Linked DNA regions of Homo sapiens. The protein of the gene in region 1 purifies or fractionates together with the protein of each later gene. This does not show direct contact. Each region holds a gene or a part of one and is shown on either strand. Other genes may lie near its edges.

The links. Proteins that work in one complex are often made in the same cells at the same time.
Region 2: the proteins of ATF7IP (region 1) and GTF2E1 purify together in Homo sapiens (affinity purification with western blotting; 2 studies listed by BioGRID, with this or other methods). This does not show direct contact.

The regions. Positions count from the first base shown.
Region 1 is NC_000012.12:14,361,767-14,368,715, reverse strand, and holds the start of ATF7IP (activating transcription factor 7-interacting protein 1), read right to left. Parts: upstream 3,035-6,949; 5' UTR 2,889-3,034; exon of another isoform or gene 1,526-2,888; intron 1-1,525. UniProt on the Homo sapiens protein: Recruiter that couples transcriptional factors to general transcription apparatus and thereby modulates transcription regulation and chromatin formation. Can both act as an activator or a repressor depending on the context.
Region 2 is NC_000003.12:120,780,731-120,783,597, reverse strand, and holds the end of GTF2E1 (general transcription factor IIE subunit 1), read right to left. Parts: intron 2,556-2,867; coding exon 2,128-2,555; 3' UTR 529-2,127; downstream 1-528.

The DNA.
Region 1 (6,949 bases):
ATTCAACTTCACTAGTTATCAAAAAAAGTTAATGAGCTACTATTTTTCACCCATCTAATTGATGGTGGTATTGAATATGATAAAAAATGCTTTTCAAAAAAAAGTTTTTATCAATTTTGCAAATTACTTTAAAAGTCCTTTGAAAGTAATTTCAAAGAAATATTCTGAGGTATAGTACAAGAACGTTCACTGTAGCATTATTTTTAATAGAGAAATGAGCAAAAAGCAAAACAGGAAACAAAAAATGAAAGGTTTAATAAATCACAGTAAATTCTTCTTAGAGATAACAATAATATGTAACCATTTTAAAATGTGTTTAAAAAGAACATTTGATCATGTGGGATATTATAATAAAGTATCATGCAACCATTTAAAGACATATTTTAGAAGAATAATGAAATGGGAAAATACTCATAACATTAAAAGAGTAGAAATGAAATTATGGTACCAATGAAAAACTAATTAATAAACATTTATAGATTGCTCAATCATGGAAAAGTGAAGTCACAAATCACCAATACCTTTAGAGTGGTTATTTCTAAGCATTGTTAATTAATTTTCAATATTTTCCAAATGTTCTATAATGAATAAGTTTAAAAATATTTAAATACATTTATCACATATGCAAAACCTAATTTAAAGAAAAAATAGTTCTAATTGTTTAATAACTCAAACCTGTCTTTTCTAAACTACATATAAATTTTTAAATTTACAAAACTACAAAGATTTTAAATAACTTCAGTAACTTGGTATTCATTCCTGGAGTAACCTAGTCTTAATATTTATATATGTTGGATATGTGTCAAAATTTTGTGGCATCATAACCACCAAACTAAAATTTTAAAATATACTTGTTATTGACAAAGTACTAATAAACAAATAGTTGGTGTTCAGGCAATTAATTAATCTTATTAAGTTTACATGATTATATCTGCCTTGTAAGAAACATGACAGCAAAATCGTCCCATCAATAAATATGTTCTTCATATTCAAGAGCATTTTCAAATACCTCTTACTACCTTCAATATTAACCTAAAAAGCAATCATCTGTATATTCAAATGAAAACATACGCTTATATACACCAAACTATTTCATTTTTCTGGAAATGTAAAGTGTACCATGCCCTAAGATCAAAGATCAAAGTTCTTTTGTTAACCGAAATATTTATGTGTATGTTCAACTCGAAAATGCCTGAAATAGCATGTGGTAGAAAGGGGCTGCTAGGTAACCACTCCAGAAACATAAAAGGGAGAAAATTACACAACTGCTCTCTAAATATACTTCTGTGTAGAAGACCTCAGAGATCCAAGAATTACATCAGGTCAAATATTCTCTTGAGAAAAAAAGAAGAATCTTTCCTACCTCCATTCTATCTCATATGTGACGTCATTTAAAAATCCACCAACCAAAAGTATTACTTTCAATTACATCTAGGTAATATTTACTAATGGTATTTGTTTTAGGCAATAAAAATTTCCCTAAATTAACCGAGATTATAAAGCAAGAGGCACGTCTTCATTTGACAGTAGACTGATTCAAACTTAAAGAGTTATAACCAACCAAGAAACCAGTTGTTGTATATATGAACCACAAATGAAGTCTATGGAAAACATTTGCAAGTTTCTTTGCTTAGTAAGAAAGAATTTGCACAACGGGAGAATCATATCAAATCTTATATAACTTCCCCCAATTGTGTTACATAAGATTTAACTATAGTTGACACTACCATTTTAAACTAATCAGTAGCATATTTATAATTACCTTCCCTAAAAAACTATTAATAAAACCAGGAGCACACTTACAATTAAAAAATCAAACACAACTGTATCTTACACACATGCATACAGTACAGTGTTTAAAAGAAAAAAACAGATTTTTTTTATTAATGGTCCACTTTCTTCAAAGAGGCCTCAGGGTAATGGATGTTCTTTCTAGAATTCTTCATCAGAAAAATTTACCAAATAAATGTTATAGCTTACATATCATAGCAAACAAAAATGCTAAGAAAATGAGTTGATTAATTTCAAAAGTAACAATAATCTAGCTGAAGCAGTAATGAACAAGTCACCTAAGAAACTTAAAACATGTAAAATTCAAATGCCCAGAAACATACAAACTGATTAAAATTAAAACTTTATTTACTTAGGATCAAACATTTAAAACCAAAATAATCCTCAGATTGAGATTTCATTTTCGATTATACTGTAATTTCTTCCACTATTCCCGTTCCCCCAATATTCCCAAAACTAAAATTGTTTCTGTTTTGTAAACATTCCACACATCCATAACAGAACAGGTAAAAATAGGGTTAAAAATGTATTTGCAAATATGCAGTTCAAATAAATGCACTTCCCGTGAGAACACCACTAGGTGCTGATCTTTACCACCGTAAATATAAACCTGAATCCAGTAATACTTTAAAACTGAAATTATAATCAAGAACCACAAATGAAAATCATTTTTACAGAAAATTAAGTCCACAATTTTTCAAAAAATCGAAAAAACAGAGAAGAGCTTGAGGTCGGCCCAGGAGTACAACATTAGAGTAATGTTTTTCTTGAAAATTGTGAGAATTTAAGGTTAACACAAAGAAACCCCTCAAGAACGAGGAAAATTAAATCTAGAACCCAAATGGCGTCCAACAAGAACATTAGATCTTGAAAATGAATATTGCGCTTGCGCAGCCACCGCCCCGCCAGCTGCACAACTGCAGCTAGAGCCCGACCCCGCAAGATCACGTGCTCCCATGCAGCGCCGCCCGCAGCTCCGCAACCGCGCAGGCGCAGACACAACTCCCGCAGCCGCCATAATGCGGTCTTGACTCTTCAGAAATACAATAGTAATTTAAGAAAATGTGGTTTTAACAGCCCCTGGGATTCACATATACCTTTTGGGGCGGAAGCTGAGGGAGGGGGAACCAAGTTCCTTCCTACAGAGCCGTCCCGCGCAGCCGTCCCCGACGTTGCCGCCTCAGCTTTTCGCGCGCTTCAGTCGCCGCGCCGCCGCTGCCACCGCCGCCGCCTCCGCAGATTCAAAAACAAACCCGCTTCTCCCTTGCACGCGCCGGGGCCGTTATGCAAATTAATATGGGCGGGGCTCCGGGGGGTCGTGCTATGTACCCCGCCCACTGTGCTATCAGCCAATAAGCTCAAGGACTAGCCATTCCCCATGCAAATTCTGGTTTTTTATTTGAATGAGGGACATTGGCCCCGCCTCCTGCGTGGAAAAGAGAAGGAAGCCCGAGGTGGTGGCGCTGCGTCTCTCAGTTGCAGTGTGAGGTGTGTTTTTTGAGTGGATCTTCCTCAATCAATAAGTAGCACTTTGTGAGCGCCCTCTATGAGGCTTAGAAAAGAAAGAAGGAAGGAGGTAGGTGAGAGTTTAAAGAGCAGAGGGAAAGATTTTCATAAAAGCCAGGAGTATGTTGATTTATTCATCATTTATGTTTTAAATTCACAGAATGTACTTTGAATTGTATTAATAATGAAGGAATGAAAAAAACATACTTTCTTTCAGTTGCTTGGTAACAGAGCAAGCACTTTTTATCATACTCTCTCACCAGAAGTTGTATTCATCCCATTTATTCAATTTCATGCTGGGAGTCGGCCTTTAATGAATTCCACAGGAGGTAGTGGACAAGTCACTGCCTTACTGGTTAAGAGATCTGGGTTCAAGTTCAACTACTGCAGCTTCCTTGCCGGTTCCTCGGAATAAGTGTGTTACTCAGTTTTCTCACCTGTATAATGGCAATCATGACTATAGTTGAACTAGGTTGGAAGCACTAAATGATAGAATAAATGTACATATGTTTTGGCCAGGTGCCGTGGCTCAGGCCTGTAATCCCAGCACTTTGGAAGTCTGAGGGGGGGTGGATCACCTGAGGTCAGGAGATCAAGACCAGCCTGGCCAACATAGTGAAACCCCGTCTCTACTAAAATTACAAAAATTAGCTAGGCATGGTGGTGCGTGCCTGTAATCCCAACTACTCAGGAGGCTGAGGCAGGAGAGTTGCTTGAACTGGGACCTGGGAGGCCGAGATTGCAGTGAGCGAAGATCTCACCACTGCACTCCAGCCTGGGCTACAGAGCAAGACCCCTTATCAAAAAAAAAAAAAAAAAAAAAGAATAAAAGTACATATGTTTTGCAAGGCAAGAATAGCCTGAAAATAATATTAGATGGTACCGTGTGGTTATTGTTTTTTTATGTAACTTCTCATTATATGAATGTATTGGTTCAGTATTTATTTAGCAATCACTGTGTTGTAGATCTGTTAGGTGCCTGTCCTCAAGAAATCTGTACTCTAGTGAAGAAGACAGAAAACTGAACAAGAAATTTTTGTAACTAATAAGAAATTAGAATAGGGTTGTTAATACTTATTTTTATAACTGGAACCATTCAATTTACTTAAAATATAAGGTGGCCTTTAGAAATATCACCTAGGGCCGGGTGCAGTGGCTCACGCCTGTAATCCCAGCACTTTGGGAGGCCGAGGCGGGCAGACCATGAGGTCAGGAGATCGAGACCATCCTGGGTAACATGGTGAAACCCCGCCTCTACTAAAAATACAAAAAAAAAAAAATTAGCTAGTCGTGGTGGCACGCGCCTGTAGTCCTAGCTACTCGGGAGGCTGAAGCAGGAGAATCACTTGAACCCGGGAGGCAGAGGTTGCAGTGAGCCAAGATCACGCCACTGCACTCCAGCCTGGGCAACAGAGTGAGACTCCATCTCGAAGAAAAAAAAAAGAAATATCACCTAATCCAGACCTAGAGAATTAGAAAAGCCTTCCTAGAAGAGGTCATCTCTATCATGATAAATGATTTAATTAATTTTTTGCCTAAAAGTTGGACCTCATTGGGACAGCAATGAGGAATCATTTAAAAGGTTTTAAGTCGGGATATAACACAATTAAATTTGCATTGTTTAATCGCTAAATGTTGTAACATCATTAGCACAGTCCTTAGCATATACTCAATAAATTATAGATGCTCAATTATAATTTATTTATTATAATTTTCATAGTACATCAGTGCTCAATTATAAGTAGATGCTCAGAAAATTAGAAATATTGATATTAAATGTTACACTCCATAATAATAAGAGAAATTGGATTGGAATACTAGAGCCCATTATGTTTCTCTTTTTATGTCTTCTGTAAGCATATAAAAAAGAATCATTTTTATAATAGTCTATTCTTTTTTTTTTTTTTGAGACAGAGTCTTGCTCTGTTGCCCAGGCTACAATGCAGTGGCGTGATCTCAGCTCACTGCAACCACCACATCCCGGGTTCAAGCAATTCTCCTGCCTCAGCCTCCTGAGTAGCTGAAATTACAGGCGTCCACCACCGCGCCCAGCTAATTTTTGTGTTTTTAGTAGAGACAGGATTTCACCATCTTGGCCAGGCTGGTCTCAAACTCCTGACCTCATGATCCACCCGCCTCGGCCTCCCAAAGTGCTGGGATTAAAGGCGTGAGCCACCACATCTGGCCTTCTTTCTTTTTTTTTTTTTTTTTTTAAGACAGTCTTGCCCTGTTGCCCAGGCTGGAGTGCAGTAGCACGATCTCAGCTCACTGCAACCTCTGCCTCCCAGGTTCAGCGATTTTCCTGCCTCAGCTTCCTGAGTAGCTGGGACTACAGGCACACTCTACCACGGCCGGCTAATTTTTTGTATTTTCAGTAGAGATGGGGTTTTGCTATATTGGCCAGGCTGGTCTCGAACTCCTGGCCTCAGGTAATCTGCCCACGTCAGCCTCCCAAAGTGCTGGGATTACAGGCATGAGCCACCATGCTTGGCCTATGATAGTCTATTCTTGATTATCCATGCTAATAGCAAATGGAAAAATAATTCAGCATAACCACAGATTTATCAGTTTTCTTAGATATGCTCATATTCTAGACTTGCCTCCTGAAGACTCCAACTAGACAATTTTATTGGATTCGAATCTCCTCAGATATCCTCAACCACAGTTACAGTCTCTTCAGCCATGCAAACCCGCTGGTTGACCTAATCAACTATTCATTGATTTGTTCAATGAATACAATATTTATAATGTCTCACAAACTATTCTGGGCACTGGGGATGCCCAAAGGAAATGACACTGTTTCTCATGGGGAAAGAGTTGTAAATACAGATAAACATTATGAGATCATTAATATTTTGGTGGTATGTCTTAAGCATAAAAAAATTCTAAAATGAGAGAACCTAAATCTTCCTCATACTATATGGGAAAACTTCACAGAGGAAGTGATACTTGACCTGACTTATGATGTAGAACTTTGTACCTAGGCTGTCAGACTAGGTACAAAAGAAAGTATTCAAGTTAGAAAATAACAGAAAATACAAAAACAATGAAGAATGAAAAAAGCTGAACTTAAGACTTCTAGGTAGGACCACATTTAAAATATTTATCAATCCCTATATCACTGACCAATCAGAATGGAAGCAGGCTTGAAGACTTCCCTCCCCCCACCCTATTTTGTCAGGTGTTAATTCTTTAGTTGTAGGATCTTGAAGAGGTCCAGAGGCTCTTCAGCTGGGGACTGAGCCTGACTTGGTGGTATGAAGGGTGTGGTAGGATGGGGCAGCTACTTACCAGTTAGTACAAAAGGATTTTCATATTTTATCTACCATTATGTTTTTATTGGTATATTTAGGCTAAAATGATACAGGCTAAATATAATTTTCCTAGGAAAAAGTGCTAGAGTAAAGTAGGATCATAGAACCTGTCTCACAAAAAAAGAAAAAAAAAAAAGACCTAAACTAAAATAATAAATATAAACCAATACATTTCAGTTGTAGCAACTGAACAAAGAAAACAGAACTTTTTAAAAACAGCATAGGCCGGGCGCGGTGGCTCACACCTGTAATCCCAGCACTTTGGGAGGCCGAGGTAGGTGAACCACCTGAGGTCAGGAGTTCGAGACCAGCCTGACCAACATGTTGAAACCCCATAT
Region 2 (2,867 bases), on another chromosome or scaffold:
GAACTCCTGGCTCAAACAATCTTCCTGCCTTGGCCTCCTGAGTACTTAGGACTAAATACAGATTTAGTGAGTATATCTATCTTTCTATTCTATTTCAAATACTGCTGCAATGAATACCTTTATTCTTACCTCCATATTCACTTGTGACATTTTCCCATAACACGAATTCTACATATACATGAACACACTTACAAAAAATAGTTTAAAAAATTAACTACATTTTAAAAATTAACATCTGATTACCATTTTATTTAAATTAACTTCTAGAACTATAAAAGTTTAAAAAACAATGTTTAAAAGCTGAAGAGCATTGCTTCTTGGTCTTTTGGCTAAGATCAAGTGTAAAAGTTGAATACTTTACGTATACAAGGTACAAAGGCATCTTATTGCACAAAAAGTTTAGATCCCATATGCATCTATCATTTGAAATATGACTAATAAAAAAGTCTTTAACATTTTTTTAATGGGAAGAATATTCATTTTAATATGCCCCAAGATGTTACAGAACTTAAAATGAACAAACTTCAGTCAGTATAAAACAGATTTATTGTCAACATTCAGTCATTAACACAACCCAGGTAAATGAAACATCACTCCATACAAGGCTCATATATTCTTTACATGTGTACTATAAAATGATAAATACTTAAAAATTACAATGCAAGGAAAAATATTGTAAGATATACAATTGTTACAGACCCTTGTGTGAAAGTTCTTTATTTTTAAAGTTCTGCCTTAGGGAAAATACCATGCTACATATCAGAACCCAAAATAAACTGTTTCCTGAGGTTACAATGCTCAATGGTATACTGGATGCACCCTAAAATACTGTGTCTGACAAAAATTAAAAGAGAGACAGCCTTCAATGATGTTTAGAAAGAGGGAGAGTGACAGAGAGAGAGAAGAGTAATCAATTATTCTGTTGATTTCTGCTGGAATGGCCTCATTAAACAATTTATAGCACTGACAAGAGGTCTGTACCCAAAGGGAACAAAACCAGGACCAGTCTCAGCTTTACATAAAGGATTTCCAAATCAGACTAACTGACACAGTTCTAAGGCACTGTTACCAATGCTTGTCACTCTTCAACCCTTCACAGAGACTTCTTGTCTTACGTCCATGTTTTTCTAATTTCTTCCTAAGGGTTTACCAATTATACTTCTGTTTTCTATCATCCTAAATCCAAACCAAAAGACATTAAGCAATACAATAAAATCTACCAGTCTGGTCAGTTCTAAAGACACAAATTCTGGTTTAGACATTAATCATAAGACTCAAGTATATCTCTCCCCCTTCCACACACGCTCCCACCTCCCCTTACATATTGATCCATCTCAATTTTGAGGAAATGCTCAAATTCTAAGCAAAATTTCAGGATTTTTTCCCCCAATCAGTGATTTGACTGTTGGCAAGCTGCTTTGGTGGGCAGCAGTATAAGAAATTGTTTGGAATGCCTGGCTAGAACAGATAAAATGGATGTGATCAGTGAATTATTGTAACCTATTGTAGTAAACAGATGGATGGGAAGGATTTACCTTATGAACTTCCCTCACTCATTTCAGAAGGGAGAAAATTATGTCTTAATAAGGCAAGAAAAAAATCAGATAAGAAAATACAGCACTTTGGGAGGCCGAGGCGGGTGGATCATGAGGTCAGGAGATCGAGATCATCCTGGCTAACATGGTGAAACCCTGCCTCTACTAAAAATACAAAAATTAGCCAGGCATGGTGGCAGGCACCTGTAATCCCAGCTACTCGGGAGGCTGAGGCAGGAGAATCGCTTGAACCCAGGAGGCAGAGGTTGCAGTGAGCCGAGATCACGCCATTGCACTCCAGCCTGGGGTACAAGAGTGAGACTTCATCTCCAAAAAAAAAAAAAAAAGAAAAGAAAATACAGTAAAATATTAATACTGTAGTGACAGCAAGGAAGGGTAGGATTCTCAGCACCCTACCTTGCTGGGAAAGTTTCTGGCATAAAAGTCAAACTCTCTACCATCAATCTTTGCACAAGGATGGACAGTTGCTTACATCAAGAGGGGCAGAAAGCCACTTAAATACTTTTCTTCAAAGATGAGACATTCCTTTTTGAACTGAGCATTAGAGAAAGGAGAAAGAATTAGGGAAAGCTCACTCAAAGAGGTCCTCAAACATGCGTTGTCCCATTGCTATATATGCTTCCTTTTCTTCTGGTGTCATCTGGGCCACTAGCTCTGGCCGTTGGCTCACTTCACTGTAGGAGAACGGACGGCCAGCCACCATGACAATGGGGTCATCTGCTACTTCTTCAAACTCGTCATCTTCCTCTTCATCCTCTTCTCGTTTATGCACAGCCACAGCTGCCGGACGGGGTGGAGAATCATCATCTGACTCACTGGTCTCGCTTTCTGAGTCACTGCCATTGGCAGCGGTCACTGGAGCAGCTGCCCCCACTGAACCAGCCATGGCAGAGGAAGTCTTTTTCTCGTGAATGAGCAGTGCTCGCATGACCTCTTCGTTGTCATCAGGCCCAGCATGGCCTTCCTCACGCTCCTGAAATGCGTCCATATCTATGCCCCCTGGGGAGTAAAACTCAGAAAGTCAATATCCTTAAATATAAATGGCATTTCTTTATAGCATATAGACAATATTTTAACATATATTTAAATAATACGATAAAATAACAGACTTCACTGGTTCCATTTTTGAGCTGCTATCCATAAAATATTCAAAATATTTCTTACAAACTGGAGCTTAAGTAGCATAATGGTCAAGTACATTGGCTTTAAGAGTATTATAGCATAGATTTGAATCCTGGTTCTTCTACACACAAGCATCTTGGGCAAGTTATTTAATCTCTAAACTTCAATACCTTTTTCTGTAAAATGAGG